Regions from separate parts of the Homo sapiens genome. Here regions 1 and 3 are each linked to region 2. The links come from fine-mapping of genetic effects on gene expression. A gene starts in region 2. Each other region holds a variant in brackets. All regions are shown on one strand. Distances are from middle to middle. Region 1 overlaps CDH1 (cadherin 1). Region 2 holds the start of CDH1 (cadherin 1). Region 3 overlaps CDH1 (cadherin 1).

Evidence for each region. PIP is the estimated chance that this variant, and not a neighbour inherited with it, causes the effect. A credible set is the group of variants that fine-mapping cannot tell apart.
Region 1: its variant is the best candidate, but not a certain one, in a credible set for the expression of CDH1 in lung (TOPMed, PIP 0.81).
Region 3: its variant is the best candidate, but not a certain one, in a credible set for the expression of CDH1 in whole blood (TOPMed, PIP 0.73).

What each region holds. Positions count from the first base shown.
Region 1 is chr16:68,803,971-68,806,729 of GRCh38, forward strand. All of the region lies in intron 3 of CDH1 (cadherin 1), which reads left to right. Among named protein-coding and RNA genes, the nearest start is that of TANGO6, 38 kb to the right of the region's middle. The variant T/A (reference allele first, on the strand shown) is at 1,225.
Region 2 is chr16:68,735,534-68,738,279 of GRCh38, forward strand. It overlaps CDH1 (cadherin 1), which reads left to right and starts at 1,759. Exons shown (of 16, transcript NM_004360.5): 1 at 1,759-1,930. The coding sequence starts at 1,883. RefSeq lists an enhancer at 780-924, a cis regulatory region at 852 and a silencer at 1,805-1,874.
Region 3 is chr16:68,770,355-68,773,113 of GRCh38, forward strand. All of the region lies in intron 2 of CDH1 (cadherin 1), which reads left to right. Among named protein-coding and RNA genes, the nearest start is that of CDH1, 34 kb to the left of the region's middle. RefSeq lists an enhancer at 1,752-2,046. The variant G/A (reference allele first, on the strand shown) is at 1,353.

The DNA.
Region 1 (2,759 bases), 68 kb after region 2:
TCGTGATCCCAGATGGCGGCTGGAGCTCCAGTCATCATGTCTTTTTTTATTTTTTTAATCATGTCTTTATTCTAAGCAATAAGAAGGAGAAAGGAGAAGCATAAAAATTCATTACTTAGTTATCTGTCTGCCTTTTTTTTTTTTTTTTTTTTTTTTTTTTTGAGATGGAGTCTCGCTCTGTCACCCAGGCTGGAGTGCAGTGGCGCGATCTCAGCTCACTGCAAGCTCCACCTCCCGGATTCATGCCATTCTCCTGCCTCAGCCTCCTGAGTAGCTGAGACTACAGGCATCCGCCACCACGCCTGGCTTATTTTTTGTATTTTTAGTAGAGACGGGGTTTCACCGTGTTAGCCAGGATGGTCTCGATCTCCTGACCTTGTGATCCACCTGCCTCGGCCTCCTAAAGTGCTGGGATTACAGGTGTGAGCCACTGCGCCCGGCCCTATCTGCCTTTTAAGAAACCTTTGTGGAATTCTCCACAAGCAACACTTGAGAAACACTGGCCAAAATTTAGCCTCATGACCACATCTAGCTGCACATGCAGTGTAGGGAATGTAGTCTTTCATATGAATACATTTCTGGAATGTATATTCCAGAATTACAAAATTGAGATATATATTGGAGAGATAGGTTTTTATTTTGTTTTTAATCAGAAACAAAGAGTGGATATTGGGTGGTAGGTAGCAGATTATGCCTCAGCTGGTTTGAGATTCACCTTGGTTTGTCTCTATAGTTCAAAGGATCCTTCTGGAACCAGGTGGTACTGTAATTAGATGGCAGTCTTACCTCGCTTTCATTATATATTGATTAATTTTTAACTTTTTTAAAAAACAACATATCCAGGTAACAAAATCTTTTTTTTTTTTTTTTTTTTTTTGGAGACAGAGTCTTGCTCTGTCACCCAGGCTGGAGTGCAGTGGTGGGAACACAGCTCACTGCAGCCTTGACCTCCCAGGCTCAAGCAATCCTCCTGCCTCAATCTTCCATGTAGCTGGGACCACAGGGTGCACCACCATGCCCAGCTAATTTTTTTTTTTTTTTTTTTTTTTGTAGAGATAGGGTTTCACTTTGTTGCGCAGGCTCAAAATCTCTAAATTTGTGTAAGAATAGATCTTAGTCTCTAGTCCTTTCATCTTATTTGGGTGAGTTTTCTCAGTCTGGCATCCTTCCTTTCTTTTCTTTTTACTTTTCTTTTCTTCTTCTTCCATTTCCCTTCCTTTTGTG[T/A]TTTTAGTACAGATGGGGTTTTACCATGTTGGCCAGGCTGGTCTTGAACTCCTGACCTCAAGCAGTCCACCTGCCTTGGCCTCCCAAAGTGCTGGGATTATAGGCGTGAGCCACCGTGCCCCACCTGGTATCCTATTTTTCTGAGGGATCACTTCCACGTGCAGTGTTTTCAGGCATGACTCCCTTTCATTTAACACATGAAAATGTTAGTGTGATGTTTTGCCAGCACAGTGTTCATCATTATTCATTCTCTGAAAATATTCCACAGTCCTGGTGTCAGCAAGGCATGCATGTTCCTTTCCTTTCATTGTGATAACTGGGTTTGCATTCATCCATCAGTGCCCATGTGCTCACCATGGCTGTGCAAGGTGGCCAGTTTTTGTTGTTGTTTTGTTTGTTTGTTTTTGTTTCTTTTTTGAGATGCAGTTTCACTCTTGTCACCCAGGCTAGAGTGCAATGGCACAATCTCAGCTCACTGCAACCTCCACCTCCTGGGTTCAAGCAATTCTTCTGCCTCAGCCTTCTGAGTAGCTGGGATTACAGGTGTGCACCACCACACCCAGCTAATTTTTGTATTATTAGTAGAAACAGGATTTCACCATGTTGGCCAGGCTGGTCTTGAGCTCACCTCAGGTGATCCACCCGCCTCAGCCTCCCAAAGGAAAAAGCCTGCTGGGATTACAGGCATGAGCCACCAGGCCTGGCCAAGGTGGCTGTTTTAAGGCTTAGGATACAGTGGTTTTTCTGGGATTGGTTTTTGTTTTTGTTTTTGAGACAGAGTCTCGCTCTGTTTCCCAGGTTGGAGTGCAGTGACACAATCTCGGCTCACTACAACTTCTGCCTCCCAGATTCAAGCTATTTTCTTGCCTCAGCCTCCTGAGTAGCTTGAATTACAGGCACATGCCACCATGCCTGGCTAATTTTTGTATATTTATTTATTTATTTATTTATTTATTTATTTATTTATTTATTTTTGAGACAGAATCTCTCTCTGTCATCCAGGCTGGAGTGCAGTGGCATGATCTCAGCTCACTGCAACCTCTGCCTCCCGGGTTCAAGCAATTCTCACGCCTCAGCCTCCCAAGTAGTTGGGACCCCGTGTGTGCCACCATGCCCGGCTAATTTTTGTATTTTTAGTAGAGGCAGGGTTTTGGCACGTTGGCCAAGCTGATCCCAAACTCCTGACCTCAAGTGATCTGCCTGCCTTAGCCTCCCAAAGTGCTGGGATTACAGGTGTGAGCCACCACGCCTGGCCCAGGATACAGTGATGATGGTCAGTTTTTTATTTTGTTCATGTGCTGGGGTCAAATCTCAATAAAACCATAACTCAGTGTTTTCCAACCAGTCCAACCATCATCTCCATCATTACCTTTATTGAGCACTTACTATGTTTCAGGCAGTATTCACAGTGCTTTAAATGTGCAATACCAGCATCTCATTTAATCCTTCCAAGAATTATATGAGATAGGTTCTAATATTATCCCCATTTCAGACATTAGGAAGCTGTAATACAGAGAAATTAAGTAATATCTGCC
Region 2 (2,746 bases):
CCTGGGCGACAGAGCAGGACTCCGTCTCAAAAAAAAAAGAGCTGGTCAGTGTCAAATGCTTAGCACAGAGACTGGCACAGTAATCTTCAATGTCCAGCACCTATTGTTACTATTTTTTTTTTTTTTTTTTTTTTGAGACAGAGTCTTGCTCTGTCGCCCAGGCTGGAGTACAGTGGCGCGATCTCGGCTCACTGCAAGCTCCACCTCCCAGGTTCATGCCATTCTCCTGCCTCAGCCTCCCGAGTAGCTGGGACTACAGGCGCCCACCACCACGCCTGGCTAATTTTTTGTATTTTTAGTAGAGACGGGGTTTCACTGCGTTAGCCAGGATGGTCTCAATCTCCTGACCTCGTGATCTGCCCGCCTCGGCCTCCCAAAGTGCTGGGATTACAGGCGTGAGCCACCATGCCTGGCCCTATTGTTACTATTTTTACCCCTCACTTCTGTACAGAGCATTTATGGCTCAAGAAACATTTGTCATTTTAATTGTATGGGAGTCCCACAACAGCATAGGGAGACATTTCTGATCATTATTCCCATTAGGAGGGTGGAGAAACTGAGGCTTTGGGAGGTGGTCCTGACCTAGGGAATCAATTTGCTGACTCACTAACCCATGAAGCTCTACAGTTAAAAAAGACTAGATTAAAAAATGAGAACTCAGTAAAGGGGCTGAGGCAGGAGGATCGCCTGAGTTCAGAAATTTGAGATCAGCCTCGGCAACATAGTGAGATCCCCTCTCTAGAAAAATTTTTTAAAAAATTAGGCCGCTCGAGGCAGAGTGCAGTGGCTCACGCCTGTAATCCAACACTTCAGGAGGCTGAAGAGGGTGGATCACCTGAGGTCAGGAGTTCCAGACCAGCCTGGCCAACATGGTGAAACCCCGTCTGTACTAAAAATACAAAATTAGCCGGTGTGGTGGCACACGCCTGTAGTCCCAGCTACTCAATAGGCTGAGACAGGAGAGTCTCTTGAACCCGGCAGGCGGAGGTTGCAGTGAGCCGAGATCGTGCCACTGCACTCCAGCCTGGGCAAGACAGAGCGAGACTCCGTCTCAAAAAATACAAACAAAACAAACAAACAAAAAATTAGGCTGCTAGCTCAGTGGCTCATGGCTCACACCTGAAATCCTAGCACTTTGGGAGGCCAAGGCAGGAGGATCGCTTCAGCCCAGGAGTTCGAGACCAGGCTGGGCAATACAGGGAGACACAGCGCCCCCACTGCCCCTGTCCGCCCCGACTTGTCTCTCTACAAAAAGGCAAAAGAAAAAAAAATTAGCCTGGCGTGGTGGTGTGCACCTGTACTCCCAGCTACTAGAGAGGCTGGGGCCAGAGGACCGCTTGAGCCCAGGAGTTCGAGGCTGCAGTGAGCTGTGATCGCACCACTGCACTCCAGCTTGGGTGAAAGAGTGAGACCCCATCTCCAAAACGAACAAACAAAAAATCCCAAAAAACAAAAGAACTCAGCCAAGTGTAAAAGCCCTTTCTGATCCCAGGTCTTAGTGAGCCACCGGCGGGGCTGGGATTCGAACCCAGTGGAATCAGAACCGTGCAGGTCCCATAACCCACCTAGACCCTAGCAACTCCAGGCTAGAGGGTCACCGCGTCTATGCGAGGCCGGGTGGGCGGGCCGTCAGCTCCGCCCTGGGGAGGGGTCCGCGCTGCTGATTGGCTGTGGCCGGCAGGTGAACCCTCAGCCAATCAGCGGTACGGGGGGCGGTGCCTCCGGGGCTCACCTGGCTGCAGCCACGCACCCCCTCTCAGTGGCGTCGGAACTGCAAAGCACCTGTGAGCTTGCGGAAGTCAGTTCAGACTCCAGCCCGCTCCAGCCCGGCCCGACCCGACCGCACCCGGCGCCTGCCCTCGCTCGGCGTCCCCGGCCAGCCATGGGCCCTTGGAGCCGCAGCCTCTCGGCGCTGCTGCTGCTGCTGCAGGTACCCCGGATCCCCTGACTTGCGAGGGACGCATTCGGGCCGCAAGCTCCGCGCCCCAGCCCTGCGCCCCTTCCTCTCCCGTCGTCACCGCTTCCCTTCTTCCAAGAAAGTTCGGGTCCTGAGGAGCGGAGCGGCCTGGAAGCCTCGCGCGCTCCGGACCCCCCAGTGATGGGAGTGGGGGGTGGGTGGTGAGGGGCGAGCGCGGCTTTCCTGCCCCCTCCAGCGCAGACCGAGGCGGGGGCGTCTGGCCGCGGAGTCCGCGGGGTGGGCTCGCGCGGGCGGTGGGGGCGTGAAGCGGGGTGTAGGGGGTGGGGTGTGGAGAAGGGGTGCCCTGGTGCAAGTCGAGGGGGAGCCAGGAGTCGTGGGGACGATCTTCGAGGGAAGGAGAGGGGCATCCGTAGAAATAAAGGCACCTGCCATGCCAAGAAAGGTCGTAAATAGGAGTGAGGGTCCCGGGGATAAGAAAGTGAGGTCGGAGGAGGTGGGAGCGCCCCTCGCTCTGAGGAGTGGTGCATTCCCGGTCTAAGGAAAGTGGGGTACTGGAGAATAAAGACATCTCCAATAAAATGAGAAAGGAGACTGAAAGGGAACGGTGGGCTAGGTCTTGAGGGGGTGACTCGGCGGCCCCCTCCCGGGAGTTCCTGGGGGCTCGGCGGCCGTAGGTTTCGGGGTGGGGGAGGGTGACGTCGCTGCCCGCCCGTCCCGGGGCTGCGGGCTGGGGTCCTCCCCCAATCCCGACGCCGGGAGCGAGGGAGGGGCGGCGCTGTTGGTTTCGGTGAGCAGGAGGGAACCCTCCGAGTCACCCGGTTCCATCTA
Region 3 (2,759 bases), 35 kb after region 2:
CCCATCCCCACTCCCGGAGCCCAAAGCTCAGTCCGCAGCACATAGAGGGCCCTTAGGGGATGTTCATGGACAGCTGAATGACTCTGCCTCTGCCTTCAGGTGGGTACCAGCCAGTTGACATCCAGATTCATTCAGAGCCTGCTGTGGGCCAGGCACCAGCCTCGCACCTTCAGGGAACGTGGCAATAAATAAGGATTTCAGAGGGCAGCACATTCTAGAAGGATGTAAAGCAGTGAAACGGGGTAGGGAGTGCCTGGGGTAGTGGTGCAGGGCCCCTTTAGCTGAGGAGTGGATCAGGCAGGAGGATGTTTGTGTGGTACCTAGTGGTAGAAAGGAGGACACCATGAAGAGAGCAGTAGGAAGAGAATTCCAAGCAGAGGAACAGCAAGGGCTGAGAGCCTGAGACAGGAAGGAGCGCAGTGTGTGGAGTGGGCAAGAGGCCCAGTGTGGCAGGGCCTGGTGGGTAGATGGGCTCACAGGCGGGAGATAAGCTGGGAGGGGAAGGCAGAGGCTAGAGCTGGTCTCTAGTTTTTTAGACCTTATCTTCTGAAGGACAGATAAGTGCCTCTGCCTCCATCAGCTTCCACCGAGACGAAGTGATGCAAACCAGACCGTGCAGCCAACTCCTGCGTCAGGTTCCATAGGAATCCTTTCCCCGCCAGTGGAGGAGGCTCTCCCGTCTTTTGGAAATGATGTGCAGGAGACAGAGCTGATTCTCATTTCTTCCATGGACACGGCTAAGTGCGGGCTGGTGTGTGAGAAAGGGTTCGGGGCGCGTGGTTGGTGGAAGTTAGCTCCTGGCTGTTCTGCCTTGCAGTCCCAGGCAACTCAGACCTTCCCTGGCTGCTACTCACACCTACGCTTTCCTACGCAGGCTCTGATCTTCTTTTTCAGCCCTAGAATCCCAGAATAGCAGCTAATGTGTATTGAGCCCTTTTTTCTTTTTCTTTTTAAGACAGGGTCTCACTTTGTCACCCAAGCTGGAGTGCAGTGCAGATCACAGCTCGCTGTAGTCTCGAACTCCTAGTCTCAAGCAATCCTCCCATCTGAGCCTCCCGAGTAGCTGGGACCATAGGCACGTGCCACCATACCTGGCTAATTTAAAAAAATTTTTTGTAGCCGGGCGCGGTGGCTCACGCCTGTAATCCCAGCACTTTGGGAGGTGGAGGCGGGTGGATCACAAGGTCAAGAGATCGAGACCATCCTGGCCAACATGGTGAAACCCCGTCTCTATTAAAAATACAAAAATTAGCTGGGCGTGGTGGCGCATGCCTGTAGTCCCAGCTACTAGGGAGGCTGAGACAGGAGAATCGCTTGAACCCAGGAGGTGGAGGTTGCAGTGAGCCGAGATC[G/A]CACCACTACACTCCAGCCTGGCGACAGAGCAAGACTCCCTCTCAAAAAAAAAAAAAAATTTTTTTTTTGTAAAGAGATCTCACTATGTTGCCCAGGCTGGTCTCAAATACCTGGCCTCTTGCCTCTGCCTCCTAAAGTGCTGGGATTACAGGCGCGAGCCACCGTGCCTAGCCCATTGAGCTTTTATTCTGTGTCTGACAGTGCTAAAGGGCTTTACGTGGATTAACTTGTTGAATCATCCCATCCCCTTAGGAAATAGAGACCATCACTATTTCTGTTTTGCATATGAGGAAATCGAGGCAGGCAGGAGAGGTGAAATCACATGCCCAAGGTGGCATAGTTGATAAGTGGATCTGGGGCTTGAACTTGGGTCGTCTGACCTCTGACCTGGGGCTCTCAACCACTTAATGCTACACTGGGACCCTGACTTAAGGACTCAGGGTCTAGGCTCCTTATCTCAAAATTGGCCCCGTGTTGCCACACAACGGCCAATCGCATATGTCCTTGCCTTGCTTACCACCTAATCGGGCAGGCCTAGCAGACAGGGACACTGCCTTTCTTATCCTCTTCGTGCCATGCATGGAAGGGCGGGGCTCCATTAGAACTTGGAAGCTTCCTCTCTAATTTATGGTTTGTCCCTCTCCAACATATGGGAGAGATAGATAAGTCTCTTTAATTAGTTCACTAAGATTAATAAGCCATAGACCCATCAAGGAAAATTCAATAAATGTTCACTGGGCATCTTTTATGCACCAGGCTCTGTCTACATTCAGAGCGAGAGAACAGTCACAGCTGACATCTATGGACCACTTACAACTGGCCTGGCTCTGGGCTAACCCGCACCGTATACAGATCTTATATATACTTCACTCCATACCCTGTGATGTAGGTCTTCCTCAAAATCACCACACTATGTCAAATTGCCCATGAAAAACACCAGACTTAGGCTGGGCACGGTGGCTCAAGCCTGTAATCCCAGTACTTTGGGAGGCCGAGGCAGGTGGATCGCTTGTGCCCAGGAGTTCAGGACCAGCCTGGGCAACAGAGTGAGACCCCATCCTAACAAAAAATACAAAAAGTACAAAAAAATTACCTGGGGGTCCCAGCTACCCAGAAGGCTGAGGTGGGAGGATCGCTTGAGCCTGGGAGGTCAATGCTGCAGTGAGCCATGATTGTGTCACTGGATTCCAGCCTGGGCAACAGAGTGACACCCAGTCTCAAAAAACAAAAACAAAAACCAAAACCACCAGGCTTATGGGAAAGTGGGTTTAGGAGCTCAGCACTCAAGAACTTCATCGTAATACATTAGACAAAAAGAATTTTGCTTGTGGAAATGGGTCTCTAAAGGGTTGTGGCTTGTTATAAGTGGTGGAAGGAGAATTGTCTGAAATGAGATGGAAGTTGTA